2 separate regions of the Homo sapiens genome follow, and region 2 is reported to be linked to region 1. Evidence: microRNA targets listed by miRTarBase, many of them from high-throughput screens and not tested one by one. Region 1 holds a microRNA gene; the other region holds the end of a gene's coding sequence.
What was found. Region 1 holds the annotated microRNA hsa-miR-559 (UAAAGUAAAUAUGCACCAAAA, at 4,960-4,980, shown strand). A microRNA usually pairs through its seed, bases 2 to 8, with sites in the 3' UTR of a target mRNA and lowers its output. Matches are read on the target gene's strand: a 7mer-m8 pairs with bases 2 to 8, a 7mer-A1 pairs with bases 2 to 7 and ends in A, and an 8mer does both.

Region 2: miRTarBase lists SEM1 as a target of hsa-miR-559. The part of its 3' UTR that is shown has no 7-base or 8-base seed match.

Annotation. Positions count from the first base shown.
Region 1 is chr2:47,372,731-47,379,840 of GRCh38, forward strand. It overlaps MIR559 (microRNA 559), which reads left to right and starts at 4,945; the gene lies at 4,945-5,040. EPCAM (epithelial cell adhesion molecule) reads left to right here. Exons shown (of 9, transcript NM_002354.3): 2 at 733-840; 3 at 1,078-1,318; 4 at 2,504-2,569; 5 at 4,284-4,347; 6 at 6,223-6,324; 7 at 7,039-7,110.
Region 2 is chr7:96,682,584-96,689,703 of GRCh38, reverse strand. It overlaps SEM1 (SEM1 26S proteasome subunit), which reads left to right. Exons shown (of 3, transcript NM_006304.2): 3 at 738-942. The coding sequence ends at 780. Among named protein-coding and RNA genes, the nearest start is that of SEM1, 24 kb to the left of the region's middle.

The DNA.
Region 1 (7,110 bases):
CACTGCAATCCAGCCTGCACGACAGAGTGAGACTCTGTCTCAAGAAGAAAAACAAAAAAAGGCAGTGACTAACAGGGATGTTACTTAGCAGGACAGGACTGTGGAAGGAGCTAAGACTGGGAGTTTCACAAAGACAAAGCTAGAAATGATACTTGGAGAGCTGTGTTCTTGTTTTAAAAAAATTGTAACAGGAGGCCAGGCACAGTGGCTCATGCCTGTAATCCCAGCACTTTGGGAGGCTGAGGCAGGAGGATTGCTTGAGGCCAGGAGTTCAAAACCAGCCTGGGCAACATGGCGAAACCCCGTATCTACAAAAAGTTAAAAATTAGCCAGGCATGGTGGTGCATGGCTGTAGTCCCAGCTACTTGGGAGGCTGAGACAGGAGGATCACTTGAGCCCTGTAGGTCCATGCTGCAGTAAACCAAGATTGTGCCACTGCATTCCAGCCTGGGCCACAGAGTGAGACCCTATCTTTAAAAAAAAAAAAAAAAAAAAAAAAAAAAAACAGGAATGCATGCAGATTAAACTATGTGTCTGTATACAGTATGCAAACTTTAGCAAGTGCCAGGCACTTAGGCAGTAGTCTATAGCTGAAAAATAAAACATTCAGAACCACTTTTTAAGGTTTTGTGTCCTTGTAACTTTAGGCATTATTATTACAATATAACTTAGCTGGGACATGAGAGTTAATAGATCCACATTTTAAAGTAGATTTTTTTTTTAATTTTCTAGAATGTGTCTGTGAAAACTACAAGCTGGCCGTAAACTGCTTTGTGAATAATAATCGTCAATGCCAGTGTACTTCAGTTGGTGCACAAAATACTGTCATTTGCTCAAAGCGTGAGTAAAATATCCTAATTACCTGTAAGCTTTATTTTGACTTAATACTTCTTTAATTGATGTGCCTTGAGTTGGAAAGAGTTTTATTGGCTTAAATCTGAATCATGTTACAAAGTAAGTGTGGGAACACATAAATTTCAAATAATCTTTGACCCTGGAACTTTAGAGTTAATTTTTTTTTTCCCGTAATCATGAAATCAGTTATTTTTCAGTTTGGCATTAAGGTTTCTTTTTCAGTGGCTGCCAAATGTTTGGTGATGAAGGCAGAAATGAATGGCTCAAAACTTGGGAGAAGAGCAAAACCTGAAGGGGCCCTCCAGAACAATGATGGGCTTTATGATCCTGACTGCGATGAGAGCGGGCTCTTTAAGGCCAAGCAGTGCAACGGCACCTCCATGTGCTGGTGTGTGAACACTGCTGGGGTCAGAAGAACAGACAAGGACACTGAAATAACCTGCTCTGAGCGAGTGAGAACCTAGTGAGTGGGGCTGCCTATACTACTTGTTTTCATGCTGTTCAGATTCATTTAATTAAATTTATTTTTGATTATGTAATATGATTTCATGGTTTAGAATTCAGAAGATATGAGTGTCCAGTGAAAAGCTTCCTTCTCATTCCAGTCCCCCTCGCTACCCATTGGACCTCCACAGAATTGATGTTATTGATTATTCTATAACCTTCCAGAGATAGTTGATGAATTTGTTATATATCTGTTTTATTATTTTTACATAAATGATAGCATACTAGGTATAATTTTTCTTTTATATCTTTACTTAACATTATTCAGTATTTCATTGTTGCATTAGTAGTAAATGTATGTAATTTAACCTATGTATTTGCTTATTGATTGTGTTTTAAAAGTGAGATATGCTTGTTTTAGGGATTGTTTAATGAAAAGGCACAGAAACCCACTCAAGCTAGCTTAAGCAAAAAAAGACTTCATTGGAAGGGACTAGAAACTGGAAAGGATGTCAGGACCAAAGTGGGCACTTTGTTTTTCTGTTCTGGTCTTCTGGAGCCTCGTTGTCAGTTTTCTCTTTGTGCCCTTTCTTTTGTTTTTTCTTTTTTCTTTTCTTTTCTTTTTTTTTCGAGATGGAATTTCCACTCTTGTTGCCCAGGTTGGAGTGCAGTGGCACAATCTCAGCTCACTGCAACCTCTGCCTCCCGGGTTCAAGCAACTCTCCTGCCTTAGCCTCCTGAGTAGCTGGGACTACAGCTATACCACACCTGACTAATTTTTGTATTTTAGTAGAGATGGGGTTTCACCATGTTGGCCAGGCTGGTCTCCAACTCCTGACCTCAGGCAATCCACCCACCTCCACCTCCCAAAGTGTTGGATTACAGTTGTGAGCCACCATGCCCGGGCCTTTCATGCCTTTTCATCTTTTTAGTTGAACAGGGCATGACACTGCCAGCTAAACTTTGACTTAATGTGACTTTATGTATTGTGTCCAGAGAACAGAGGGTCAATATTAGAAAAGGTGTTCCCTCCTGGGTGTGTCCTTTATGAAGGATGTGTAAGGGAAGAAATTATAGGAATAGCTACTGCATAAATTTTTTTTCTCTTAGTCCTTATAATTCGAGAATTTTAGGATTAGCTTATTAGGAAAATAGTATGGAAGACTGAGTTATAGTCAACTGACATTGTCTTTTTACTTTATAGCTGGATCATCATTGAACTAAAACACAAAGCAAGAGAAAAACCTTATGATAGTAAAAGTTTGCGGACGTAAGTGCAATTAAATGCATCATATTCTTGCACAGTTGGTGGCTCAAATCTTCCATCCTACACCATTAGAAAAAGCAAGTCTAAATGCTTTTTTATATTTCTGAAAAATAAAGTTACTTGAAATAGAGTTGCAAGAATAGCACAGAGATTCTGGGAATACACTTCACTCAGATTCACCAATTAACATTTTGGCACATTTGCTTTTTATATGTGTATGTGTGGATGAATATGTGTGTGTGCTTTACATCAGTGTATCTATGCATGTATAAATATTTTTCCCAGAAGCACATGAGAGCAAGTTGTAGACATCAGGCCCCTTTACCCCTAAGTACTTCAGTGTATGTTTTCCTAAGAACAAAAGGCATTCTTTTATATAAACCACTATACAACGATCAAATTTAGGAAAAATTTTTTTTTTTTTTTTTAGACGGAGTCTCGCTCTGTCACCCAGGCTGGCGTGCAGTGGCGTGATCTCAGCTCACTGCAACCTGCGCCTGCCGGTTTCAAGCGATTCTCCTGCCTCAGCCTTCCAAGTAGCTGGGACTACAGGTGCCTGCCACTACGCCCTGCTAATTTTTGTAGTTTTAGTAGAAACAGGGTTTCACCATATTGGCCAGGCTGGTCTCGAACTCCTGAACTTGTGATCCTCCCGCCTCTGCCTCCCAAAGTGCTGCAATTACAGGTGTGAGCTTCCGCGCCCGGCCAGGAAATTTAACGTTATATCACGTTGTGCCCATTTTCCCAATATTGTCCTTTGTAGTAATTTTTCCCCTCTGATTCAGGACCCAGTCCAAGATCCATGTATCACATTTAGTTGTCATGACTCTTTAGTCTCTTAATATCGAACAGTTTCTTGGCCTTTCTTTGTCTTCCATGAACTTGCTATTTTTAAAGAGCATGGGCAAGTCATTATATATAATGTCCCTCAAATTTTGATTTGTCTGATATTTCCTCCTTTTTTTTTTTTTTTTTTGAGTTGGAGTTTTCCCTTTTGTTGCCCAGGCTGGAGTGCAATGGTGCAATCACGGCTCACCGCAACCTCTGCTTCCCGGATTCAAGCGATTCTCCTGCCTCAGCCTCCTGAGTAGCTGGGATTACAGGCGTGCGCCACCATGCCTGGCTAATTTTTTTTGTATTTTTAGTAGACACGGGGTTTCTCCACGTTGGTCAGGCTGGTCTCGAACTCCCAACCTCAGGTGATCTGCCCACCTCAGCATCCCAAAGTGCTGGGATTACAGGCATGAGCCACCTCACCCGAGCCTTGATGTTCCCTCTTAACTAAAAGCAGGTTATGCATTTTTGACAGGAAAACTACTTAAGCGATCTTGTGTCCTTTATAATACTTCACATTAGGAGTTGCATGATGTCAGCTTGTCCCTTTACTAGTAAAGTAAACTTTGGTTAAAGTGGTATCCACCAGGTTTTTCCACTGTGAAGTTACCATTCTCCCTTTGTAATCCATAAATAATCTATGGGCAGATACTTGGATACTAAGTAAATGTTCTTTTTCTAATTAAACTGGTACCCAGCAGTTTGAATATCAATGGATGATTCCAGCCTGAATCAATTATTATTATGATAGTTGCAAAATGGCAGAAAAATTTTAACTTTAATGACAGTTTTAGACCCTGAGCTGTCTGCTTAAAGAGTAGTGCTTCTTACTGTTGTGTGGTACAAACATTTTTTTTTAATACAGATTTTAAATTCTTTACAGTGCACTTCAGAAGGAGATCACAACGCGTTATCAACTGGATCCAAAATTTATCACGAGTATTTTGGTATGATTTTTTAATAAGTGAGCTTTAGCAGACAGTTGGTGAGACAGTATGTTTTGAGTATAAGGACAGCCAGTGATTTAAGTGGTGGTTAAATGCACTTACTGGAGCAACAGTTTCGGATCTGGGTACTTAATGTGAATTTCCTGTTACTGTTTTTTTTTGTTTGTTTGTTTCTTTAAGACAGACTATTGCTCTCTTCCCCAGGCTGGAGTGTCATGGCAAGATCTCGGCTCAATGTAACCTCTGCTTCCAAGGTTCAAGCAATTCTCATGCCTCAGCCTCCCGAGGAGCTGGGACTACAGGCACATGTCACCATGCCCAGCTAATTTTTGTATTTTTAGTGTCGGCGGGGTTTTGCTATGTTGGCCAGGCTGGTCTCGAACTCCTGGCCTCAAGTGATCTGTCTGCCTCAGCCTCTCAAAGTGTTGGGATTACAGGTGTGAGCCACCACGCCCGGCCCATTGTTTTTGGTTATCGTTGTTTTCCTTCCATAGCCTTTGAAAAGCCTAGTTTTACTCCTAAAGAAAACGTAGTATCTCTTAGTATCCCTAAAACATTTGAGTTTTCTTATCCTGGAGAACCTGTCCCTGTGGATGAGCTCCAGTAACATCTTAAAGTAAATATGCACCAAAATTACTTTTGGTAAATACAGTTTTGGTGCATATTTACTTTAGGATGTTACTGGAGCTCCCATCTTCTCTGCTTTAAGGAACTAGTCCTTAACTAGTTAGCCCTTACTTAACTCTTTAAACTCTGGTTTAAAAAATAAAAAGAAGCTTGAATAGTGTGACGGAACTCTTTAAAGGTAGTATGAATTTATTCAAGAGTCTTTAGAAAGAATGTACTTTTTTTACTCTTTAAAAACAAAATGATGGCCGGGCACGGTGGCTCACGCCTGTAATCCCAGCACTTTGGGAGGCCGAGGCAGGTGGATCACAAGATCAGGAGATCGAGACCATCGTGGCTAACACAGTGAAACCCTGTCTCTACTAAAAACATACAAAATAGCCGAATGTGGTGGTGGGCACCTGTAGTCCCAGCTACTCGGGAGGCTTGAGGCAGGAGTATGGCGTGAACCTGAGAGGCGGAGCTTGCAGTCAGCTGAGATTGTGCCACTGCACTCCAGCCTGGGCGACACAGCAAGACTCCGTCTCAAAAACAAAACAAAAAAACAACATGGAAAATGCATGCTGCGTTTTACCTTGCATTTCTTTTTCTTTTCTTTTTTTTTTTTTTTTTTTGAGACGGAGTTTCGCTCTTGTTGCCCAGGCTGGAGTGCAATGGCGCCATCTCGGCTCACCACGACTTTTGCCTCCCAGGTTCAAGCGATTCTCCTGCCTCAGCTTCCCTGGTAGCTGGGATTACAGGCAATGTGTCACCACGCCTGGCTAATTTTGTATTTTTAGTAGAGATGGGGTTTCTCCATGTTGGTCAGGCTGGTCTTGAACTCCGGACCTCAGGTGATCCGCCCACCTCAGCCTCCCAAAGTGCTGGGATTACAGGCATGAGCCACTGCACCCGGCCTTACCTTTCATTTCTTTAGTAATTTAGTTTTAAAGTAGTTCTAATCCAAATAAAATACTTTCATATCTTATTTAAAAATCTTTTCAATATAAGAAAATCCTCTTAGGAAAAATTGTACATTGTAATTATGTTTGGTTGCATGGCTGTCTTATTTCCCTTTGATAGATTTAGAGACCTCCCAAAGATTTCTTGATTAGTGATAAACTTAGTTATCCACTAATGGAAAGGAACAGTGATGCATGTAGATTATAGAAAATCAAACACTGAATATTCTGATTCTCAATTAATGTTATTTTCAAATGATTTTGATTATATTAGTATTAATTTGTATTATTCAATTTTTTTCCCCAGTATGAGAATAATGTTATCACTATTGATCTGGTTCAAAATTCTTCTCAAAAAACTCAGAATGATGTGGACATAGCTGATGTGGCTTATTATTTTGAAAAAGATGTGAGTATCATCTTCTTTATTCCTGTGTTCAGGAATGTAGTCTATCATGCCTCAATGAATTAAATATATTTCATCACCTTTTTATCCACTTACAGATCAACCAAATGGTTCGCTGCTGCCGTTAATTTTGTCCTCCCTGTCACTCACATGCATCTTGCTTGTTTGTATATTTATGCCTCTTATCAAATTGTTCTGCCTAAAATATCTCCCCTCTTTCTTATAATTCTTATTTATTATCTACTTGGTGGTTACTTAGTTTGTGCATATATGCTCCCCTATGATATTTATAATTTACACAAATAAAAGTCTGTTAAAAAAGACTGTAACTGATATGATTAAAATATTTTGTTGAAACTTTAATATATTATAGTGAGGTATTTTCTGCTGAAATATGAGGTTTGCTTCAAAATAATCTGGGCGGGGGTGAAAGGATGAAAGGAAGAAAAGATGAAGTAAGAGAGGCTATGTGTTGTTGGCCTTGCATCTGGGTGATAGGTACATGGGCATCATTGCACTACTCTTTCTACTTTCGTGTATGTTGAAAGGTTCCTGTAATAAACAGTTTTTTAAAGTTCCAATAAATTAGATTGTTATCACTAAAACCATAAAGATTCTTGGCAGCGGTTCTTTTGGCATACAATTTGTATGTAATTATATGTGGCCATGGTTGGTTTCCTTAAATATTTTTAATTCCTTTTCTCCTTTTCAATACAGGTTAAAGGTGAATCCTTGTTTCATTCTAAGAAAATGGACCTGACAGTAAATGGGGAACAACTGGATCTGGAT
Region 2 (7,120 bases), not on the chromosome of region 1:
TTAGGAAAGCAAAGGAGTTTTGAGAAATGAATGCTAAATACTATACATTATTCCGGTCATGTGTTTGCATTGGAATAGTGTAGTGGTGTCTAAGCCAAATTTACTTGAGAACAAATGTCTATCTTATTGGATGTAATGATGTAAAGCATATTAATCATACTTTAAGTTTACTCAGTGTTTTATCATGGATTAGCCATCTACTAATTTTGTCATAAACTTTGAATTGTGGCAAATAAGGTTAGAGCAATACATATATGTCAATATGGAAAGCAATCTGTTTATTCTTTCTGCATATACAACAGTAATATAGTAATACCTGTTATGATCATTGTAAAATCCCTAAAGGTTTGATAGTGATGTGTACTTTGCCTGAGGTTAATGAGTCTCAAAACTTATGTTTAAATATTTATTAGGAACAGAACATTCATATAGCATTTGGAAAGTATTTGAAGGATAGCAGTAAGTCCCTCACATTTCTTCCACAAATAGACTTATAAGAAAATTAAGGAAGATAAAATACAAGTTAAATAATGGGAAAAACAAAATTTTATAGTATTATATTGACTCATATCCAATTTTCTTATGTTTTTTTTTCAGAGACAAAAGTAAAACTATTCAGTGGTATTGTAAATTGATGTCTCAGGCATAGCTCATTTATTTGTTTATTTATTGTATTGTTTCTAAAAGAATGTTTATTATAAAGAATACCTAGTGATGTTCTTTCTGTTTTATCTTAGAGCTGAACTAGAGAAACATGGTTATAAGATGGAGACTTCATAGCATCCAGAAGAAGTGTTGAAGTAACCTAAACTTGACCTGCTTAATACATTCTAGGGCAGAGAACCCAGGATGGGACACTAAAAAAATGTGTTTATTTCATTATCTGCTTGGATTTATTTGTGTTTTTGTAACACAAAAAATAAATGTTTTGATATAATCTTGGTTTGGTTCAGAAGTCTTAATCTTTTGCTTCTAATCAATTTTCTTGTCATGATTTTCCAAAACCTTATTATATATAGATAGTAAAATTTCATATTATGAAATTTTCTTTTTTTTTTTTAATGTTAACTGAGTGAGGCTCAGGTTAAATGATCTGGAGTAGATTTCACCTGATTCCCAATTCAGTACTTTTCTTAAACCACATCAATTAATTGTTACTTCTATTTTATAAGGAATTTCTTTTACATCACATTGAACCTTAATCTCTTCTGTATTTTGATAGCTTAGGCAACATTTGCTGACATTTATAAGGTGACCTTTCAAAACCTGTGTTTTAAAAATATTAATCATTTTAAATTGCTGTAATTTACTTAGTTCCTGAGCCATTAATAATATTATTAATGGTTGTTAGCGTATTATTGGTACTTAAAGTCCAAAGTAGTTTAATCACAGTAAGAATGGTGTCTTCTATTAAAATTGAGGAAGTGGGCTCAAGATACTTTATCAACAAGTGCATATTTTCAGGTACTACATAGCAGGCTCATTTAGTACAACTGAGTTTTCACAGAGTGATAGCTGTTGCCACATCACTTTTGTGAATGGGAGATTTAATTTGGTTTGTAAAGGATTCTTTGTGATGACTTAAATGTACGGGGTATTTTTTAGGAATATTTTCAAATGTAAATGTTGTTACTAAGAACTACAATCAATCTGTAGTGTTGAGTAATTTCAAATGTAAAATTTATGTAACAATGCAGTGCAGATACCAAAATAGGGGTTGGTGGCCTGAAATACAAGTTATACTTCAAAATGATTTTGAGCATAAATATGTTTCTGTTTTTAAGACAAGCATAAACCTACCTTGCCTGCCTAACGGAACTGCTAGATGATCAAATGGAATAAGGAACACCAAAGAACTTTGGAAAGTATAAAAGTTTTGAATGGATAAGTGATACTTTTTTTCTTTTTTTTTAAATTATTATTATACTTTAAGTTTTAGGGTACATGTGCACAATGTGCAGGTTAGTTACATATGTATACATGTGCCATGCTGGTGTGCTGCACCCATTAACTCGTCATTTAGCATTAGGTATATCTCTTAATGCTATCCCTCCCCCCTCTCCCCACCCCACAACAGTCCCCAGAGTGTGATGTTCCCCTTCCTGTGTCCATGTGTTCTCATTGTTCAATTCCCATCTATGAGTGAGAACATGCGGTGTTTGGTTTTTTGTCCTTGCGATAGTTTACTGAGAATGATGATTTCCAATTTCATCCATGTCCCTACAAAGGACATGAACTCATCATTTTTTATGGCTGCATAGTATTCCATGGTGTATATGTGCCACGTTTTCTTAATCCAGTCTATCGCTGGACATTTGGGTTGGTTCCAAGTCTTTGCTATTGTGAATAGTGCTGCAATAAACATACGTGTGCATGTGTCTTTATAGCAGCATAATTTATAGTCCTTTGGGTCTATACCCAGTAATGGGATGGCTGGGTCAAATGGTATTTCTAGTTCTAGATCCCTGAGGAATCGCCACACTGACTTCCACAATGGTTGAACTAGTTTACCGTCCCACCAACAGTGTAAAAGTGTTCCTGTTTCTCCACATCCTCTCCAGCACCTGTTGTTTCCTGACTTTTTAATGATTGCCATTCTAACTGGTGTGAGATGGTATCTCATTGTGGTTTTGATTTGCGTTTTTCTGATGGCTAGTGATGATGAGCATTTTTTCGTGTGTCTTTTGGCTGCATAAATGTCTTCTTTTGAGAAGTGTCTGTTCATATCCTTCACCCACTTTTTGATGGGGTTTGTTTTTTTCTTGTAAATTTGTTTGAGTTCATTGTAGATTCTGGATATTAGCCCTTTGTCAGATGAGTAGGTTGCAAAAATTTTCTCCCATTCTGTAGGTTGCCTGTTCACTGTGATGGTAGTTTGTTTTGCTGTGCAGAAGCTCTTTAGTTTAATTAGATCCCATTTGTCAATTTTGGCTTTTGTTGCCATTGCTTTTGGTGTTTTAGACATGAAGTCCTTGCCCATGCCTATGTCCTGAATGTTAATGCCTAGGTTTTCTTCTAGGGTTTTTATGGTTTTAGGTCTAATATTTAAGTCTTTAATCCATCTTGAATTAATTTTTGTATAAGGTAAGTGATATTTTTATAAATATAATGAAGCACAGGCAGCTATGTTGATGTTGTAACATGCTAAGAAGTATTTTGATGTGCATTTTCTCAATATTTTGGTCTGTGGTTACAGGATGTGGTCACCCTAACAGTGTCAGATTACTGACAGTATTAAGTGATGGCCTGAATGATGGCCACTTAATGTGATGATTTTAAATTATTGAGGTATAATTTTGAAACCTCATAGGAGTTGAGCAGAGGCTTTAATGGGTTATTTGTAGTTATCCAGTGTTTTGTCCTTAATTAAATATCAAAATTTAGGTAGTAGTTGTTAAGGATTGGGTACCCGAAAATTGGTATTTGACATCAGGATGATAAAAACACATCTGAAGTAGGAAAGGAGATTAGTCAGGCAGATGAAAAAAATTATTATTTGAAATTTTACAATTTGTAGATTTCTCTCATTTGACCTTCACAGTGACCCACCCTGTGAAGCAGGGAGGAGAGGCCTGTTTATTGTAAACAATTTTGTCAAATAGAAAACAGTCTCAGAGTAAGTTAGGAAGTAAAAGGGCCCAGGATTGCAACAGCTAATAGGTGGCATATACAGAGCTAGAATCTAGGTTTCCGGACTCTTGGGTTTCTTGCAGATATTTTGGAAAGTGCATGAGTTCTGATGTTACTTCAAGGTTTGACTCATAATTAGACCACTTATTAGTTGTGTGTTAAGTTTCAGAACAGCCTATTAACAGTTTTCCTGTTCTATAAAATGGAAAGAATCCCTGCAGGGCTGAGCTGAAGATTAGCATGTGATAATATAGTGGTGGTAATCAATCAATTTTTTTTTTTTTTTTTTTACTGAGCCATGCTACCACTTATATGGGAGTTGCCTTACCTCCCCTTAATAACTGATGCTTACTATGTACCAGACGTTGTTCTCAGCTATTTATATGTGTTAATCTTCACAACAACCCTGAGATAGGTAATGTTATCATGTACATTTCATATATGAAGAAAAGCACCAAGATGCTGAATAATTTGCCCATAGTCACTCAGGAAGTGGTTCCAAACAAAACGAAACAAAAAACGTCTTCAATGGAAGGGACTATTCTGCACAACTTAGGGTTTCTCTTTCAACAGCACTTAATATAGTCTTACATAAATGCTCCTTAAATTTTAGTTGAGTAGCTACACAGAAAAAATGAAGTTTGCTGCAAATTTACTCCATGGTAGAAGTTTTTATTGATACAGACATAAATGTTTCTGTTAGCAATGACTCCCTTTTTTCCCCTATAATTTTTCATAATTATTTTCCAAAATTCAGTTCTGTTTGAAATGAAATTGTAGATGTAATAATGGTCAGCATTTTTCATTAGGCCTTGGCATAGAATTGCTGTAGGGGATGGCATGTCCATCCTATTCCCACTAAAAGTTTAGAGGACTATCATAATGAGCCAAGTCCCTTTTGAAAGATTGAATGTTATATTAATAATGCTTTCTACAGCATGTTGTCGTCTGCACTGTATATTTTTAAACATTTATATCCTTCCTGTTCCACACTTCCCATTTTGAGAGAGGTAACACATCCCACCCACTTGGCAGAGAGCTGACAATTAGCACCACCCTCATTCCACCCATACACATGATGCTGGGGGACTGGCCTTGGATTTTCCAGCTACCTTAATGGCTCCTATTGCACTCTGCCTTTAAGTGTCCTGAGTTTACTTCTTGCTGTATCCATATGTTCTCTTTAGTAATCTCACCAGTGTCAGTTGCTTTTAAACCAATTCCACATGTATGATTCCAAATCTCCTGTTTTGACCTCTCCCTGAAACTCTAATCTCATATATTCAACTAACAACTTGATTACCTCTCCATGTCTGAGTTAAAATTAACTTGATGAGAAGAGAACCCTTCATTATCCTTCTCAAACCTGATCTTTCCTCCAGTCTTCCCCACCTCAGTAAATAGACCCACATTCAACCCAATTGTTTAAGCCAAAAATATAGAAACTTATTGAATCTTCTGTTCTCCCAATATCCAATCCATTGGTGAGCCCTATCAACTCTGCCTCAAATGCATATTTCATGTAGTTAGTACAGTGCTTGCCTTTTCCATTCTTCCCTTCCCCTTTCCTAATGAATCCTCATCTCCCCTGCCTCCCCCGCCCCCCAAACGGTTAGATATCCATCTTTCTTTCACATGGGCCAAGCCTTCTTTCACAAGGCAAGCCAACACCATTCCCAGCTCAGGGTGGGGTGTGTTTCATCTTAAGCCAATCTTAGTAATCCCGTGCCCCGTACAAGTGATTGGATACAAGGATGGACAGCTTTAAATAAATTTGGGGCAATGAATCAAAAGTGGGGCTAGAAGCATCTGGCAGAGAAAAATCCTGCTTCATAAAATAGCACACAAAGCCAGCCTTTCCCTCCAAATATAAATAAGGGAGCATGTAGTCTCAATTGCTAGTGACAGTCATATAACAACTATTGCAGTTTGAGGGTGAAGATTAGAAAGTCTGGAAGAGGATTCTTTGATGATGTCATTGAACTTGCTCTAGGACAAGGCCTCCTGTAAAACAAGCCTACAAACGTCCTTATTTTTAATTTTTTTTAATTATACTTTAAGTTCTGAGTTACATGTGCAGAATGTGCAAGTTTGTTACATAGGTATACATGTGCCATTGTGGTTTGCTGACCCATCAACCCATCATCTACATTAGGTATTTCTCCTAATGCTATCCCTCCCCTAGTCCGCCACCCCCTGACAGACTCCAGTGTGTGATCTCCTCCCTGTGTCCATGTATTCTCACTGTTCAACTTCCACTTATGAGTGAAAACATGCGGTGTTTGGTTTTCTGTTCTTGTGTTAGTTTGCTGAGAATGATGGTTTCCAGCTTCCTCCATGTCCCTGCAGAGGACATAAACTCATCCTTTTTATGGCTGCATAGTATTCCATGGTGTATATGTGCCACATTTTCTTTATCCAGTCTATCATTGATGGCCATTTGGGTTGGTTCCAAGTCTTTGCTGTTGTGAACAGTGCTGCAATAAACATACGTGTGCATGTGGCTTTATAGAATGATTTATAATCCTTTGGGTATATACCCAGTAATGGGATTGCTGGGCCAAATGGTATTTCTGGTTCTAGATCCTTGAGGAATCGCCACACTGACTTCCACAATGGTTGAACTAATTTACAGTCCCACCAACAGTGTAAAAGTGTTCCTATTTCTCCACATCCTCTCTGGCATCTGTTGTTTCCTGACTTTTTAGTGATCATCATTCAAACTGGCATGAGATGGTATCTCACTGTGGTTTTGATTTACATTTCTCTAATGACTAGTGATGATGAGCTTTTTTTAAATATGTTTGTTGGCTGTATAAATGTCTTCTTCTGAGAAGTGTCTGTTCATATCATTCACCCACTTTTCTAGTATTTCTAGTTCTATATCCTTGTTTCAAGTATTTCTAGTTCTATATCCTTGAGGAATCGCCACACTGTCTTCCACAATGTTTGAACTAATTTACATTCCCACCAACAGTGTAAAAGCGTTCCTATTTCTACATCCTCTCCAGCATCTGTTGTTTCCTGACTTTTTAATGATCGCCATTCTAACTGGCATGAGGTGGTATCTCATTGTGGTTTTGATTTGCATTTCTCTAATGACCAGTGATAAAGAGCACTTTTTCATATGTTTGTTGGCTGCATAAATGTCTTCTTTTGAGAAGTATTTGTTCATATCCTTTGCCCACTTCTTGATGGGGCTGTTTGTTTTTTTCTTGTAAATTTGTTTAAGTTCTTTGTAGAGTCTGGATATTTTATCTATCCAAAGATAGACAAAGGATACAATGTATCCTTTGTCAGATGGACAGATTGCAAACATTTTCTCCCATTCTGTAGGTTACCTGTTCACTCTGATGATAGTTTCTTTTGCTGTGCAGAAGCTCTTTGGTTTGATTAGATCCCATTTGTCAGTTCTGGCTTTTGTTGCCATTTCTTTGGTGTTTTAGTCATGAAGCCTTTGTTCATGCCTGTGTCCTGAATGTTATCGCCT